Regions from separate parts of the Homo sapiens genome. Here region 2 is linked to region 1. A link means that fine-mapping ties the variant in region 1 to the expression of a gene that starts in the linked region. Tissue or cell type: spleen. Region 1 holds a variant in brackets; the other region holds the start of a gene. All regions are shown on one strand. Distances are between the middles of the regions.

Region 1 (8,099 bases):
GGGGAAGGGAAGGGAAGGAAGGAAAGAAAGAAAAGAAGTCATCTCCTCAAGCTTGAGGCTCTGCTCTAACTCAGGGTGGGGAACTAAGCTGGGAAGGCTGAGGGCAGTGACCAGCCCGGTGGGGTGATCCCACCTTCTGTACCTAGCAGTTGTGTGACCTCAGATGGATGATTTAACCTCTCTGCACTGTTGGGCTACCTGTCTGTAAAAGGGGAAAATAATCCTTCCCCTCATGTACCTCTCTGTGAAGCCCACCACCCCGTGTGGGAGGAGGTCCTCATCCTGGTTCAGCAGGGCTTGGGTCCCCATTCCGCCAAATGTGTGTGTTGTGCCGTGGGTGCGCCCTGCTGTCCGGTGAGGTTCAGTCATTTGCCGAGGGCATGCGACCTGTGAGCACTAAGCAAGCCAAGCCTGGGAGTCTCAGTTTTCCCGCAATCCCCCAACCACTTCCCCAGGTGAGCAAACCAAAGGCGTAAACCGAGGCAGAGCCACCTTCCTGGCAGAAGGAAAGGTCTAGAACAAGGAATAAAATCTCCATCACGCAGTTTTTAAGATTCACTGAACCTTCTTGCAGCAAAAGCAGCTTACTTTCAAATTAGTCAGCCAGAGTGTGAGTCATTCCTTTGCAAACTCTTGTGCAGAGAATGCTAATGTGGGCTGCCCTGTGGATGGGTCCCTGCAGAGGCGCTCACCAGGGACCCTCGCCTAGGGCCAGAAGCACCCCCTCCCTCCAGGGACACTGCCCTCACCCCGCAAACACAGGGGCTCAGGCCTTGGGTCCCCCTCGCCTGCTCTGCCTACCCGCCGTCCAGCCTCTGCCTGCCTCCAGCAACAGGCCAATTAATCCCCCCAACCTGGAGCAGCCGGGGCCACAGCAGCCCACGCTGGCCCACGCTGACAGGAGAGAAGCGACCCAAGCTGAGGCCTTGCTGCAGACGCCCAAGGCCACAGGTCTGCTTTTCACCAGGAAGTGGAGGGCTGGTGAAGGTCGGTGTTACGGTAAGGGGAGTGGACGGGGGCACCCGGGGGGCTGTACCTCCTCCCCCACCCAAGTCCTGCAGAGGCAACTGGAAGCCCATACATGCCCACAGGCACTCATCCACAACCATTTGCTAACCTGCACTGCCCTGACTGAAGCTCCGGCCACACTCCAATTAGACTGGGCTGGGGGTGGGGGGCCAGGAAGGGAGAGTTAGCCCCAAAGTGGAGGAGAAGTTCCGGGAGGGAGGTAGTGAGGGAGGGCTTCCTGGAGGAGAGGAGGAGTAAGCGGAGCTTCAGGAGGAGGGAGGTAGCCAGGAAGCAGAGGGTGAGGTGGGGACGATGGGGCCATCCCAGCACAGGGAACAGGCATGCCAAGGCCGGAGTGAGGGGCCACATGCACGGCTGCCACATGACTGGAGGGAGGCAGGCCTGGTGGAGAGGCTGGAATGGGGGACCAAGGACTGTATCCCGAGGCTGGCAGGCCCCAGCTGTGAGCAGGGCAGTGGCATGGTCAGGGTGGAAGTCCAGACAGCTTGCCTTGGTTCAGAGTGAACGTGAGATGAGGACCGGAGCTTGGTCGCCGAGGGACCTGGGGCACAGTAGGGCCCCTGTGGGTAGGATGTGACCTCAACTGGGATCGTGGCTGAGGGATGGAGAGATGATGACGTTGGCTGAGGGATGGAGAGATGATGACGGTGGCTGAGGGATGGAGAGATGATGACGGTGGCTGAGGGGTGGAGAGATGATGACGGTGGCTGAGGGATGGAGAGATGATGACGGTGGCTGAGGGATGGAGAGATGATGACGGTGGCTGAGGACATGCTGGGGGCCAAGTCGATGGTGCTGTGTGAACCAGAGAAAGAGGGGCACATCTCCAGGGGTCCTGCTGGCCCCAGGCCTGGAGAGGGTCCCATGGAGCCAGGGATGTGGCACCTGGGAAGGTCCCAGAGCTAGCCACAGAGGCAGCCCGGGAGCTGACCATGTCGAGGCCACAGGAAGGCCACTGGAAACACTGTCCACCTGCCTGGCGCTGGCCTGAAAGAGAGAGAGCCACTTCATTCCCTGCATTTGACAACGGACAGATCCTAACTGACCACGGGCCCCCGCCTCGCCCTCCCTGCACGCAATCCTCAAACACGCATCTGCACCTGCCGCCTCCTGGCCTCTCCACCCACCCACTCTGCATGGGCTCCCATCATGGGGGCAACATGAGTCCTCTGAGACCATGCTAGCAGCGAGCCGAGGGCACCACAGGAATCCCAGGCCTGGTCTGGGCCAGTAAGGTTTCTGCCATTGGCACCAAGGCAGGCCTTTACCTGGACTCTCTGAAGATACCGGGAGAGCCCCGTAAAACAGAGATGGTCTCTCCTGCCTCGCTCCCTTGCGTCCTAGGCAGCCTAACCAGGAGCGGCCCACAGAGAGGTCATTTCTCCCCTGTGGCAAATCTGTCTCTCCAGGAATTAAAAACATCCCAAATGTCAGATCCAGCAGGAAGGCCCCAGGATGGAGCATTTGTTTGAGATCCCCTTTGCTCTGGGGCTTCAGAACAATGACCGCTCCTAGGCAACCAGGGAGAGAGGAAGAGGCCTGGGATCCCGGGACCAGGAAGAGGGGCTCCCTCTGGAGGCTCTCCCTCCTCCCCTGTGCAAGGAGTTTGTAGCCCTGGGGAGGGTGGTGGAGAGAGAGTGGGATGGTGGGCGCGGTCAGATGGGAGTGAGCCCTGGGCAGCCCCCAGGCCCCTTCAGCTGAGTGGCTCTTTCCTGCTGGGAGGATTCCCCTCTTCCCCTCCCCCTCCTGCCTCTCCAGCCCCCAACCCACTCCTGGTGAAGCTGCCTGGGACCCTGAAGGGACTGTGGCAGCAGAGGGGGCTGAGGTGGAGGGGGCTGAGGTGGAGAGGCTGAGGTGGAGAGGAGGCTGAGGTGGAGGGGGCTGAGGTGGAGGGGGCTGCGGTGGAGAGGGGGCTGCGGTGGAGAGGGGGCTGTGGTGGAGGGGGCTGAGGTGGAGGGGGCTGAGGTGGAGGGGGCTGAGGTGGAGGGGGGGCTGCGGTGGAGAGGGGGCTGTGGTGGAGAGGGGGCTGAGGTGGAGGAGGCTGAGGTGGAGGGGGCTGAGGTGGAGGGGCTGAGGTGGAGGGGGCTGAGGTGGAGGGGCTGAGGTGGAGGGGGCTGAGGTGGAGGGGGCTGAGGTGGAGAGGGGGCTGAGGTGGAGGGGGCTGAGGTGGAGGGGGCTGTGGTGGAGGGGGCTGAGGTGGAGGGGGCTGAGGTGGAGAGGGGGCTGTGGTGGAGAGGGGGCTGAGGTGGAGGGGGCTGAGGTGGAGGGGCTGAGGTGGAGGGGGCTGAGGTGGAGGGGCTGAGGTGGAGGGGGCTGAGGTGGAGAGGGGGCTGAGGTGGAGGGGGCTGAGGTGGAGAGGGGTCTGTGGTGGAGGGGGCTGAGGTGGAGGGGGCTGCGGTGGAGGGGGCTGCGGTGGAGGGGCTGAGGTGGAGGGGGCTGCGGTGGAGGGGGCTGCGGTGGAGGGGCTGAGGTGGAGGGGGCTGAGGTGGAGAGGGGGCTGAGGTGGAGGGGGCTGAGGTGGAGGGGGCTGCGGTGGAGGGGGCTGAGGTGGAGAGGGGGCTGAGGTGGAGGGGGCTGCGGTGGAGGGGGCTGCGGTGGAGGGGGCTGAGGTGGAGAGGAGGCTGAGGTGGAGGGGGCTGAGGTGGAGGGGGCTGAGGTGGAGGGGGCTGAGGTGGAGGGGGCTGAGGTGGAGGGGGCTGAGGTGGAGAGGGGGCTGAGGTGGAGGGGGCTGCGGTGGAGGGGGCTGCGGTGGAGGGGGCTGAGGTGGAGAGGAGGCTGAGGTGGAGGGGGCTGAGGTGGAGGGGGCTGAGGTGGAGGGGGCTGAGGTGGAGGGGGCTGTGGTGGAGGGGGCTGAGGTGGAGGGGGCTGAGGTGGAGAGGGGGCTGTGGTGGAGAGGGGGCTGAGGTGGAGGGGGCTGCGGTGGAGGGGGCTGCGGTGGAGGGGACTGAGGTGGAGGGGGCTGAGGTGGAGGGGGCTGTGGTGGAGGGGGCTGTGGTGGAGGGGGCTGCGGTGGAGGGGGCTGAGGTGGAGGGGGCTGAGGTGGAGGGGTAGCAGGGTTTGGTTCCCTCGAGGTCCTGGGAGGGCGCAAAAAGTAACAGAGGACACCTGGCCGAGAAGGAAATGTGAGCCAACCCCGCAAGTCTGAGCACAGATTGGGTCCAGCTTTCTTGTTGTTGTTGTTGTTCTATCTTTAAAGAAAGGATGAGAGCCTTAAGCATTAAAGCCCATTCTGATAAAAGTAGGGAAGCACCCGTCTGACCCCACGCCCCACCCAGCCGCCCCCAGTTCTGTTGCGGCAGCCTGAGGCACGGCCGGATTTGATCTCTGCCCGCTCCCCTGTCTTGTTTCATTAGCTGACTCTGTGTTTGAGGGTTTTATTGTTTTTGAGTTTGTTTGTTGTTTTTTTTTCAAACAGGGTCTCTCTCTGCCACACAGGCTGGAGTGCAGTGGTGCAATCATAGCT[C/T]ACTGAAACCTTGAATTCCTGGGCTCAATTGATCCTCCCACCTCAGCCTCCAGAGTAGCTGGGACTACAGGTCCACCATGCCCAGCTAATTTTTTTTTTTTTTTTTTTTTTTTTTTGCTAGTGATGGTCTCTTACTATGTTGCCCAGACTGACCTTGAGCTCCCAGGCTCAAGCAATCCTGACTCGGCCTCCCAAAGTTCTGGGATTCCAGGTGTGAGCCACCACGCCCAGCCTGTTGGAGGTTTTTTAAGCATGCACAAATACACACACACACAGAGGTCTCACCCCTGAAGCTTCCACTTCCAAGTGATGAAACTGACAGATTTTAGCTACCGTGAGAGTAACCAGGTAAAATTCCCTAGAGGAAACTTCTGGGGACAGGGTCAACATGAGTGGCATTTTCACCAGGGGGCTTCGGCGCCATACTGGTCTGATTTTCCCTTCTCTATGGAGGGGTTCCTGTTGCCCCGTCTCTGGCATCTATTACGGGTTTAGCTGTCCTGGTGTTACCCAGGGCAGAGGCCACCTCCGATTTTCAGGGTCAAACTCACACCGCGTGGAACACCTTCAGGAAAATGATTTTTCCCTTCTTTGGAGGTGGTTTTCTTAGAAGCATATCTCCAGGAGGAGGAGGACTGCTTAACAAGGGGCATCTGGCCTTTGATAACTCTTCCTACGTGCTTGCCTATTCATTTCCAAAGAGGCTATATCATTTTCAAGTCCTCTAATGCATTGGTGACAATTTCATCACAGCACTGGGGTGTCATTACGTGCAAAATGATCTGATATCTCAGTACCGGTACTTCCCCAGAAAACAGAGAGCCGAGGTCTGTTTTGTTTCTTCCCTTCATCTCTGGAACCACCTTTTCACTGTTATTTTTATTCAATTATGCTACATAAACGTGCTTATTTCTATGATTCCTGCCCTAACACATGGCACTTTCATGCGGTTCAACCCAAAACTAAAGATGTAAGTGGCAGGCTACAACAGGCTATTGAGAGAGCAAAGACCAAATGGCCATTTCTCCTTCCCTCTGGCAGGAAATCCTGAGATGACTTTTCAACATGACATTCAATTTTAGGAAATTAATTCCATCCTCTGACCTGCTTGTTCTTCTAAGGCCGGCGTCAGCCAAACAGCAAGACAGTCAGGTCTCTGAAGCGTCTGATATTGCAGGGGCCAAAGGGGCTGCACGACTCTGGTGCATCCCATAATTGTCTGCTTTTGTCCTGCTGGGCGGACGTCAGGGAGCCTTACCTGGCTTTCTAACTTGGAGCATGTCCCCAGAACCTTTATCTTCTGCAGCCTCTTCCCTAGCTCAGACATGGCCGGCCCCTTCCCTGGAGCTCTGGGCTGGAGGCCAGGAGCCCTGGGCTTTCTTCCTTTAAGAGAGGGCTCTGACCAACAAGCGTGAGGGTGAGGAAGGAAGGAAGAGAAGAAGAGTGACATGCAGACTTCTGATGAGATCTTTCGTAATAGCTTGACAGCAAAGGACGGTTATTGTGAACCATACTGATTTAATGAACTCTTAATGAAATACAAATCTTGATTTTATTTTTTTCTTGAGATGGAGTTTCACTCTTGTTGCCCAGGTTGGAGTGCAATGGCACGATCTTGGCTCACTGCAACCTCCACCTCCCGGGTTCAAGCGATTCTTCTGCCTCAGCCTCCTGAGTAGCTGGGATTACAGGCATGTACCACCACGCCCGGCTAATTTTGTATTTTTAGCAGGGGTGGGGTTTCACCATGTTGGTCAGGCTGGTCTCGAACTCCCGACCTCAGGTGATCCGCCCGCCTCGGCCTCCCAAAGTGCTGGGATTACAGGCGTGAACCACCGCACCCAGCCTAAATCTTGATTTTTTAATTGTAGTAAAAGAATCTTTACCATCTTCACCATTTTTAAGTGTACATTTCAGTGGTATTAAGTACATTTCCACTGGTGTGCAATCATCACCACTGTCTGTCTCCAGAACAACTTTCGTCCTGCAAAACTGAAACCCCAAAAGATTAAACACTAACTCCCTATTCCCTGTCCCCCAGCCCTGGCAGCCTCCATCCTACTTTCTGTCTCTATGATTTTGACTCCTTCACATAAAGGGAATCATATTTAACTTTTTGTGACAGGCTTATTTCACCCAACATAATGTCCTCAAGTTCACCCATGTTGTAGCCTGGGCCAGCATTTCCTTCCTTTTCAGGGCTGAATAGTATTCCATCGTGTGGACTGACCACATTTTGTTTCTCCATCCACCCTTCAGTGGCCACTCAGCTGTGTCCACCTTCTGGCTACTGTGTGTGATGCTGCTATGATCATGTGTGCACAGATAGGAAGCATATCTTCAGAGTGTGTGTGGAGTTGGGAGGGTCCAGCTTCTCTTCAACCCTTGGGAGAGGCTTCCAGAGGAGAAACGGAGCTGCCATGGGCAATGTGGGCAGAGTTAGGAGGAGGTGGGCTCTGGCTCTCCCTGTTCCTTCCCTCTGGTCCTGGAAGCCTCTCTTTGAGGCCAGCTGAAGGAAGACCCTTGCAAAGGGAGAGACTGGCCTCTGTGTCCAGTTGGAAGACCCTGGCAGCGTCAACATGCTCCAGGTCCATATGGCCCCTCCTTCCCATAGTCAGGCAGCAGAAGACCCTTTCATCAGGATTCAGGGGGCGCGGGCCTCCAGGCTCACTTTCACGTAGCCACAGCCCCACTTACAGATGGAAAACCAAAGCCGTGGTCCTACTGGAGGCTGGCCCGCCCCTGCCAGCCCCTCTGTGGTTCCCAGCCCCTCCAGCACGTTGAGCAGAGACAGCTGCCAAGAGACTTGGGTAACAGATGATTCCTCAGACCTGGGCACTTTTCATGTGATTGAATGCACACTTACAGAAGGGCCAGCTCTGAGTCTGCCAAGGGGCAGGCCCATACTTCAACTCCCCAAGGCTCGTCCAGACTGAGTGCTAAGTCTCCATCAGAAGCTATGAGACTCTGGCCACCTACTTCGGGGACAGAAAAACCTGCCTGTGGGGACCTTTGGCGTCCAGTCCTCTCCACAACCCGGAGCACACGGCACGTTCCCATTGGCGCTTTCACAGTGCAGATGAGCAAGCCGAGGCCCAGACAGCTTGCACCATGATGAGCAGGGTATGGGGAATGAACTCAGCTCCGGGGGGCAGCAGCGTCCCCTCCACAACCACAGCTGCCTCCCCAGGAGTCCATCAAAGTCCTGCAGAGCCCCCGGAGCCCCCCACAGACAATCCCTGGCAGGGGACGGAGTGAACCTTCTCTCCTTGGAGTGCCCCTGTGAGCATCAGGGTTACGGGGCAGGAGGCAGATCCCCGCCCACCCTCCCCTCAGCTCAGCCTGTCCTCCCCATCTTCTCATAGCTGCTCACACCCAGTGCCACTGCCCCCCGCCAGCTTCTACCCCCACTCCCAAGGATGCCAAGGACCCAGGTTACCAGGCCGATGACACCCCTCCCGGCTCCTGTCGTGGCCACCCCAGGCAGCCGACTGGTCCCTCCTGCTGAAACACCTCTTCCTGTGGCTTTGGGACCCGAGTCCCCCTCCTCTTTGAAGACCCCTTCCCAGACTTTCTCCAAAGGCCTGGCTCTTGCCCTTGCCTCCTA
Region 2 (8,099 bases), 380 kb before region 1:
GAGGTTTTGCAGCTTTGCCCAGCGGCTGGGTTCGCCGAAGGGTCTCCCTGGGGGTTCCCAGCATGAGCCGAAGCCACCCTCCCCTGTGGGATCTGTGAGGCCAGGCATTGGGCCTCTTTAGGCCTCAGTTTCCTCCCCTGTCATAGGCAACTGACAGTCCCTCTGGAGCGCCACTGGGGCTGCAGAGGGAGGCCGGAGAGATGGTGCCCCCCCTCCTCCCCGCCACCCCCACACACAGCCCTCAGCAGGATGGTGGCTGCCTGGCCGATTGCTTTTGCATTTGCAGCAGAGCGGGGGAGTGAGGCCAAGCTGAGTGCCCCCTCCCCCTGCCCAGCCAGCTCAGACCCAGGCGGTGGAGCAGGAAGGCTCTGGGGAAAACAGTGTGAGTCACCGGGCGGCCAGAGTGTGTCCTTCCCTGCTAGCGCACTACACGGCAGGTTTCATAGGTAATGATGTCATTTATGAGGCTCCCGCTTGGGGCTGTGTCTGAGTCAGCCTGGCTGTGTCGTGACCAAGCGGAGGCTGGCAGCAGCGAGGCGTGGGCACGGGCTCTGCCGCCGGGCTCTGGCCTCTGCCCCCTCGTGGGGCCCAGGCTGCCAGCCCCAGGCCTGGAACGGGCAGGCAGTGGGGCTGGGGGAGCCGTTTGAGACCTCGGATTGATGAAGAAGCATGCATTTTCGTGACCCTGGCTCCTGCCTTGGAACGGGGGGCTCGCATGCAGTGGAGGGGGACCCAGGAGTGAGCCCCGACTTCAGGAGGTTGCTCCCTGCAAAGTGCTTGTTGGGCGAAGGCCAGTGACATTCTGTGCGAATCCCTGCTGAAGGCAGATGGCCTCCGTTGTTAAACCTCCCGCTTAACAAACATCATCTCCGAACATACAGACACACAAACATATTTACATTTTTATAATGTGTATTTATTATTCAAATAGCTTGACAGCAAAGTGTTTGAAAACGAAGAGCAGGAATTCCGCGGTTCCTGCCCGGCCTCGCCATCCAGCTGGGAGAAGAGCATGGTCATTTCCTTCACTTAGTCCACGGCCACTCGGCGCTCATCCCCAGCACAGCCCTCCCCAGGCTGCGGCAAAGACTGTTGCTGTCCTGCTGAGGGATGTGCCCCCGGGGATTCAATCGAGATTCTGTAAGATGTGGGGGATGTGGCGGGGTGGGGGGTGGCTTCTCCACATCCCCAGGGCTCTCCTTCTTCCCCAGTGAGGTGGGAGAAGCCGCAGATTGGGGTCTGCTGAGGAGCGGGCCTACATGAGGCCCAGGTCGTGACCCATGGCTCCGGGGACCAGAAGGTAAACAGTTTCGGCACAGGGTGCTCCCACTAGGTCATAGGTGGATTCAGCCTTCTCTGAGAACCGAGAAGATTCTGGAGTCTTTTGAAGCAGGAAAGGAGATCAGAGGAGGAGATGGTGGCAAAGCGGGGACTGAGACTCTTGAAATGTGTTTATCCCAGGCAGAGCAGCCGCTGAAAGGGGAGATGGAGAGAGAATGTCAAAAGCAGCACTGGGTGTTTTCCTGGGGTCTCTCCACAGTGCCCCATCATTTCCGAATCACCAGGCCCGCTGGCACAGGGGTCTGCAGCCCAACCTCGCAGAATGACCCCCTCTCTGCAGGCGGGCATCACCCTGACAGCCCCCTCCCAGGACAGAAAACCTATAGACACCTGGCTGCTGGGTGTCAGGCCACCCGCCCGTTTCTCTTCCTTTCCTTCCAGCCTTTCCTCTCCCAACCAGCCCCCTCCCCACCCGGTCCCCCTTCTATTTTTCCTGGCTAAAACCAGCCACAGATACCACCACACCCGGAAAGAGATAAATAAATAAAAGAAAAACAACCTCAACTGTGAAAAGCAGTCCAAATCTGAATTTTTTCCGGCCTGAGTTAATTACACTTTAAATTGGCATGTTTACTGATCGGGGAATTTCAAGTTAACAGAGACAGCGCCCCCTCCCCAACTGTTTGTACAGTAGAACTCAGCAGGCTGGCGGGCTCCCCCAGGCCTTGGCAGGTCCTGCCGCTCCCCTGCCAACGAGAGAGCATAACAGAAACATCTATTTTTGAGTGTTAGAGAAAACGAAGATCTCACAGATGGCGGGAAGCAGCATTCTGGATGGTTTCCTGCACCCAGGCTCTGTGCACCTTCTCAGCAGCCTCTTGCCCCAGGAAAGACCAGGGCCTTTGGCCTCTCGGGACCCTGCAAGCTAGCTGCCTTGCACAGGGGGCTGTCTGCCTATCCCATCGTCGAGGGCCGAGCCTGGTCGAGGCTCCCCATGCTGTAGCACTGTCCAGTTGGCTCTGACCCCTTCTCCTTGGAGCAAGGCTGTGTGGGGTGCGGAGGGGGCTCTGGGCAGGAAGCAGGAGTCCCTGATGCATTCATTCACTCAGCACACACCAATGGAGCGAGGAGCTACACCAAATAAAGTGGTGGCCTGATCTCTGCCTTCTCAAGACCGACCCTAATAATGGGCCTGGGTCTCCCCTAGACCCCATGTACCTTGGAAAAATCCCATCCCTGCTCCAGGCCCAAATAGAGGCAACCAGTGGATCTTCTGATGGATGCAAACCCAAGGAATGCCTCCGGGGACAGGCCAGACCCCCAGCTCACAGCCACATCTCTCCTGGCAGAAGTGGCCTGATGTGGCCACCCCCGCCCCAGGCCTTGGTTCATGGTCGGGATCAACCGCAGGCTCTGCCGTGGGATGTCCACACCCTCAGGACCCGCCGGGTGCCCTGTGCTGCCCACAGAGGAGAGACAAGGCCAACAAGCATCACTGAGCACTTTCTCTGGACTCAGTCCTGTGCTAGGTACAGGGATGCCATTGTGCACAAGTCAGAAACAGCCGCGGCCCCAGCAGAGCCTGCAGTCTGGGTAGGGAGATACTTGCTGATCTAAGAATCAGAGCAGTGGATATCTGACTGCAAATTGAGACTGCCTGTGAAGGATGAATCAGGGAAGGCTTCCTGGAGGAGGTGGCCTCCCAGAGCTCAGCTTGTCCTTCCTTGAGGTCCTTTCCATTCCCAGTCCCCCTCTGGTCACTCACTTGGCCCAGGGCCTAGGGCCTTCGGGCAGGCAGTGCAGCTGCACAGGCAGGTGCTGTACCTGCTCCCCTGCACGCTGCTGGGATAACGGGAAAATGATGAATGAGGCCCCATCATGCCCTGCTTCCCGGCCCTCAAGCCCATTCCCATCCATGACAAATTGTCCCTCTACCTCCACAGGGTCTTTTCAGCAGCCTCGCCTGGGAAGCCTTGGCAGCACTTGGTGGAGATTTATGCCCATCTTCCCCAGATTCTTCTTTGTTTTTCTGCTTCTTTATTCCCTCAAAATATGCTTTTATTTATTCATTCCACAAACGTTCTCTGAGTGCCTCCCGTGTGCTTCCTCCTGGTGATAGAGAGATCGGGTTCAGTACACCCTCCTGTGTTGAACACCTGCTTTGCACTGGTGTCTATGGTCAGATTTCATCCAAGGAGACAGGCATGAACTAAGCACCTACTATGAGCCAGCACTGCCGAGCCAAGGGCCCTGGCTTCTAAAAGCTCTGCCACAGGGTGGCCGAAACCCCAGCCCCTTGGGTATTGAGGTCCTGGCTTGGTGATTTTGCAGCCCTTCTTGGTCTGGGTCGCCTCAATTTTTACAAAGAAGGAAGCCGCTCGTTCATCAGAGGTGGGTCTTGACCCCAGAGTCTCAACCCCAAAGCTGGGGAGACAGTGCTCAGAACAAAAGCCACAGCAATGCACCCTGCCCTCTGTGGACCTCAGTTTTCTTACCTGTCCAAGGGTGTGAGCAGAGAGGCAGGACAAGAAGGGAGCAGCCCTGACATTTGGGGGTTCTCTGAATCCTTGAGGACCCCTGACGACCGTGAGCTCCGTGGGTCTCCAGGACTGCACCAGCCAACGTGTCTGTGCAGAGTGGTGGTACACAGACAAGGGTGGGGGTGGTGAGGGGAGCACCTGGTCCCACCCAGGAGAGATCAACCAGATGGTCTCAGCGCACCCACCACCTTCACTAGGTCTTGTTCACTCCATGCAACTGAGGCAGTGAATATAGCCCTCAACTGCCATCAAGCGGAGTGAAAAACACAGGTCAACATAGGTCTTTGGTATTTGGATGCCCATCATGCTTTGAGTCTTCTGACAAAGCAAGCAGCCCTCTCCCCAGGCCAGACACGCACCAAAGCATCCCACTTCATGGGTGATGGCACCAAGTTGGAGAGATGACAGGTGAGTACAGAGAAAAAACCATGAATATTCTGGCAAGCTAAGTCTGGGGGAAAGTGAGCCTACCTCATCATATGATACCAAGAAAAGAGGCCCATTCGGTGAGCGATCTGTCTTCCAGGACACAGGGGCTATTCCTAAAGCCCGTGCAAGCAGGGTGGGTGAGAGCACACAGCCTGGAGCCAGACCCTGCCCCACCTCCAGCTGGGTGACCTTGGTTGACTCACTCAACCTCTCTGCGCTCCATTTCCTCAACTATGGAAAAGAAACTGTCTCCTCACAGCAGCTGATGGGGCCCAGGACCAAGGCAAGCGCCCCAACACGACAGCTATTACTTCTCCTCTTATCTCCCGCTGAAACAACAAGGAAATGGGAACGGAGGTCCAGGTTGTTCAATTTCCCAACCACGTCCAGGAGACATAGTGGGGATAAACCGGGCCCTTGCACTGGAGAAGGGAGCACACCTCGTGAACTTGGACCGGCGGCAGGGTTTACACACCGCACTGAAGACGGGACAAGTCACAGAGCCTCTGGTTGAAGGGTCCATGGAGACTTTCATCCTGGCCACCTGTGGGGCACACGTTCTTATTTGGCTTATCTGATGAGAAAGGCCCTTTGTTTATTTTTTCTTCTCCGCAAACAATAGATAAATCAATCATTTTTGCTTTTAATGAAATTCTGCATCAAGTGGCACAGGGTCACTGTGTTTGGGTTAGAAATCGGCGGGGAACATGCACGCTGCTGCATGCCGGGCCGACGCCGGACTCACCCCCTAATTCTCAAGTGGCGCGTGATGCACCCAGCACTCTTCCTGAGTGGTGGCCTGGGAGACTCGGCGGGGGGGCCGTGCCTGTTAACGCCGTGGTGTGCGGGGATGGTTATATTGAAGCTATTAAATAAGGCTAATGTCACTCTTCCCCTCACACACACATTTAATATATTCCAAAGATGTGTAGATGCATTAACAGCAATTTTCATCTCCAAATGTTCCCATTTAGTCAGCCCCATGCATAAAATATGAGCCCTAACACCACGCTCCAGCCCGTTGCAGATGGAGTTCCCCAGAGCATTTGGCTCTCAGCGCTGGGGCGTTTGCTGGAGGGGCGGGGGCGCGATCAGTCGGCATCTGCAGGGGAACACAGGGCCTGTCACTTCCTCTGGGGCTTTGGTGCCCCCACCCCCCGACAAGTGGAAGAGAGAACCCAGACCCAACTGACTCGTGCCTCCTGCAGCTAATCTCAGCCTCATCCTGGAAGGGCAGAAAAAGCTAGAAAACCAAACAGCTTTGAACAAATGGGAAGAATTTCTAAAAATCAATTAACATATTCATGTACTCCATCACCACATCTTATTGACTGCCTGCTTTGTGCCCAGCACCTGCCTGGGAATTCATCTGATCCGGTCCCTGCCTTTGGGGACTCCATTAGTCAATCAACAAACACTCACTGTTCTGCTACTGAACACAGCAGGGGATGAGAGAGAGAGAGAGAGAGAGAGAGAGAGAGAGAGAGAGAGAGAAATTTCTGCCAATGAGAAATCTCACAGTCTAGGGCACAAAGAAGGTAGACATTAACATTAGGCAATTTCAGAGAACTGTAAGCTAGGAAGAAAACAGTAACGGGGCAACTGGTAGAATGTGATAGGGAAGAGGCAAGGGGAGCTGCTTTTATAGGGTTATCAGGGATGACCTTGCTGAACAAGAGCCATTCCATCCCCTTGGGAATTGTGAACCCCTGGGAAAGGAAAATGCAAAGGATGTGGGCCTTTAAGGAAGGAAGGGCCAGAGCCTGGACAGGAGGCAGCCGAGGGCAGAGCAGGGCGGCCCAGGACCCAGCTCCGGAAGGAGGGGCATGTGCAAGGCCAGAATGAAGGATGAAAACACGTGGGGGATAGGCTGTGGCTCCAAAAGAAGAGGGGGGCTGCCACTCTGAGGGCCTGGGGGGTCCTCGGATCATTTTGGTACCAAGCCCAAGGGAAGGGGCCTGCAGAGGTGCCCTGGGCAGCGGAGTTAAACAGCTGGACTCTGCACTTGGAAATGCTCTCCCTGGCAGAGGGAGGGGCACTGGAGGGAGACCCAAGTGCCACAGGCTGGAGGGACCTAGCCTGTGGGGCGGCCTCTCCAGCAGGGCTGTGGCCCAGGGGCTGGGGAAGAGGGGTGCTGAGGGAGAGTGGGAGCAGGCAGCCCAGAGGGATGGTGCCAGGGATCCCCACTCCCATGCTAGGCATGGAGAGGAGCGGTCCCGAGGAGGAGGACAAGGGGGAGGGCAGGCACAGGCTGTGACTTCCAAGGCAGCGACGTCTCAACTAGGGGATGACGGGAGCCCAGCTCAGGAAGATCTCCCGAGCCCAGGAGCTCACTGATCAACAATGAGTGATAAAGGACAGCCTTAGCTCATTCTTTGGGGTCACTCCTGAGGTGCTCCTTGCCTTCAGCCCTGGACCCTGGGCATGGGCAGCATGTTCTGGAGTCACTAAGTCTCCAGGTCAGCTGCAAACAGGCCTCTGGTCATCTTCCTGTAGTCTGGGCAGGCCAGGGGTGCAAATATGACATAAGCATCGGGTAGCTGAGAGCCAGCCCAGCCTGGGGGATGTGCCAACCGGAAGCAAGGGCATGGCGGGTGCTCCCGCTGACACTGGAATTGGGGATGCCATTCTGTCACACTTCCAAAGCCCCCCAGAACAGAGTGGAGCTGGAAAATTAACAGGCCAAGTGACACAGGTCCTACACAAAGTCCACAGGGTCAACCAGCGCAGAGCCAGCTGCTGCCTGGAGTTGACAGCAAAGAGGAAGGCATCCAAGGTGGGATTCGATATCGGAAAGAGGTTGACTGTATAATATTCATCATATAGAAAGTGAACACCTCACAGGCAACCTATTTCAGGTACCACTGAGCAGCACTGACTCCAGGGAGGAGGCTTCTTCCACAGGGAAGGGCCCTGCCACCCACCCGCCTCCAGGATGGAGGCCAGCACAGGGCTGCAGGTGGAAGTCAAGCGCGTGCTCGGCCACCAGCCATGCCTCTGGGGGCCCACAGGGCGCGCAACCGGACCTCCCCGACATCAGCAGGTGCAGGAATCATGCAGGTGGGATCTGATACTGAAGAGAGGCCGCTCGTGTCTTGTGTGTCATGATTTCTGTGAATGCAACACAGGCCACCTCTCCTCAGGCACCACAAGGAGCAGCACACGCACACGGCCACCCAAGGCACCAGCTCCCACCCAGGGTCTCACAGCACTGAGATGAGCAGAAGGCAGCCCAGGTGCAGGGAATGCATGCAGCCGCCCCCAACATCCTGGCGAGGGGTGGGTGGCCTTCCAGCAGGATGCCTTCCAGCGGGACTAGCTCCCCCGTGTCCTCTGCCTCGATGACACTGGCCATGAAAAACAGACTGAGCCCCGTCACCATTGCTCATCAGCTTCATGACCGCCCCCCACCACAGTGCACAACCCTAGCATCTTCCCCAAAGTCCACATGGCCCCCCGAAAGCTCTCCCAAAATGATTCAATGGCGGGGGTCAGGGGAAAGGATGACAAATGTCACACCAGCCCATGCATTCACGTACCCTGGAAAGTCCCGCCTCAGGCGTGGCGCCCGCACACCACCGGGCGGTAGCGGTACTGAAAACAGGCCATCTGTGTTATATTCGTCATTAATAAAAGCGAACTCATCACAGACAACCTCTTCTCAGGTACCCAGAGTGCCATCGGCTCAAGAACGTGGCTGCCGCGTCCCGTGGTGCCAGCGCTGCCCCCGGGAAGCAGTCCTGAGGACGGATGGGACATCAAAGGTGAGAAGACACAGAGACAGGAAAGAGACCCCTGCCCGGCCCACTCTCGGTGACCAGGCCCCACTGAGGCAGCGACTCCAAAGCA

Alleles and levels. Alleles are on the strand shown, and positions count from the first base shown. SD is a standard deviation of normalised expression in the study named.
In carriers of allele T in region 1, the expression in spleen of the gene that starts at base 3,921 in region 2 tends to be lower than with C alone (large effect, 1.3 SD a copy in GTEx).

Evidence for each region. PIP is the estimated chance that this variant, and not a neighbour inherited with it, causes the effect.
Region 2: it holds the start of MEG9, and the variant in region 1 is fine-mapped to the expression of MEG9 in spleen (GTEx, PIP 0.92).

The regions. Positions count from the first base shown.
Region 1 is chr14:100,681,556-100,689,654 of GRCh38, reverse strand. It overlaps LOC105370668 (a long non-coding RNA gene), which reads right to left and starts at 2,721. Exons shown (of 3, transcript XR_001750887.2): 1 at 2,298-2,721; 2 at 1,915-2,016; 3 at 1,739-1,824. LOC124903385 (a long non-coding RNA gene) reads right to left here and starts at 324. Exons shown (of 3, transcript XR_007064339.1): 1 at 239-324. RefSeq lists an enhancer at 1-717. The variant C/T (reference allele first, on the strand shown) is at 4,493.
Region 2 is chr14:101,065,733-101,073,831 of GRCh38, reverse strand. MEG9 (maternally expressed 9) reads right to left here and starts at 3,921. Exons shown (of 2, transcript NR_047664.1): 1 at 3,777-3,921; 2 at 895-3,390. MIR410 (microRNA 410) reads right to left here and starts at 7,920; the gene lies at 7,841-7,920. It overlaps MIR656 (microRNA 656), which reads right to left and starts at 7,108; the gene lies at 7,031-7,108. It overlaps LOC105370670 (a long non-coding RNA gene), which reads left to right. Exons shown (of 5, transcript NR_188195.1): 4 at 1-446; 5 at 932-1,854.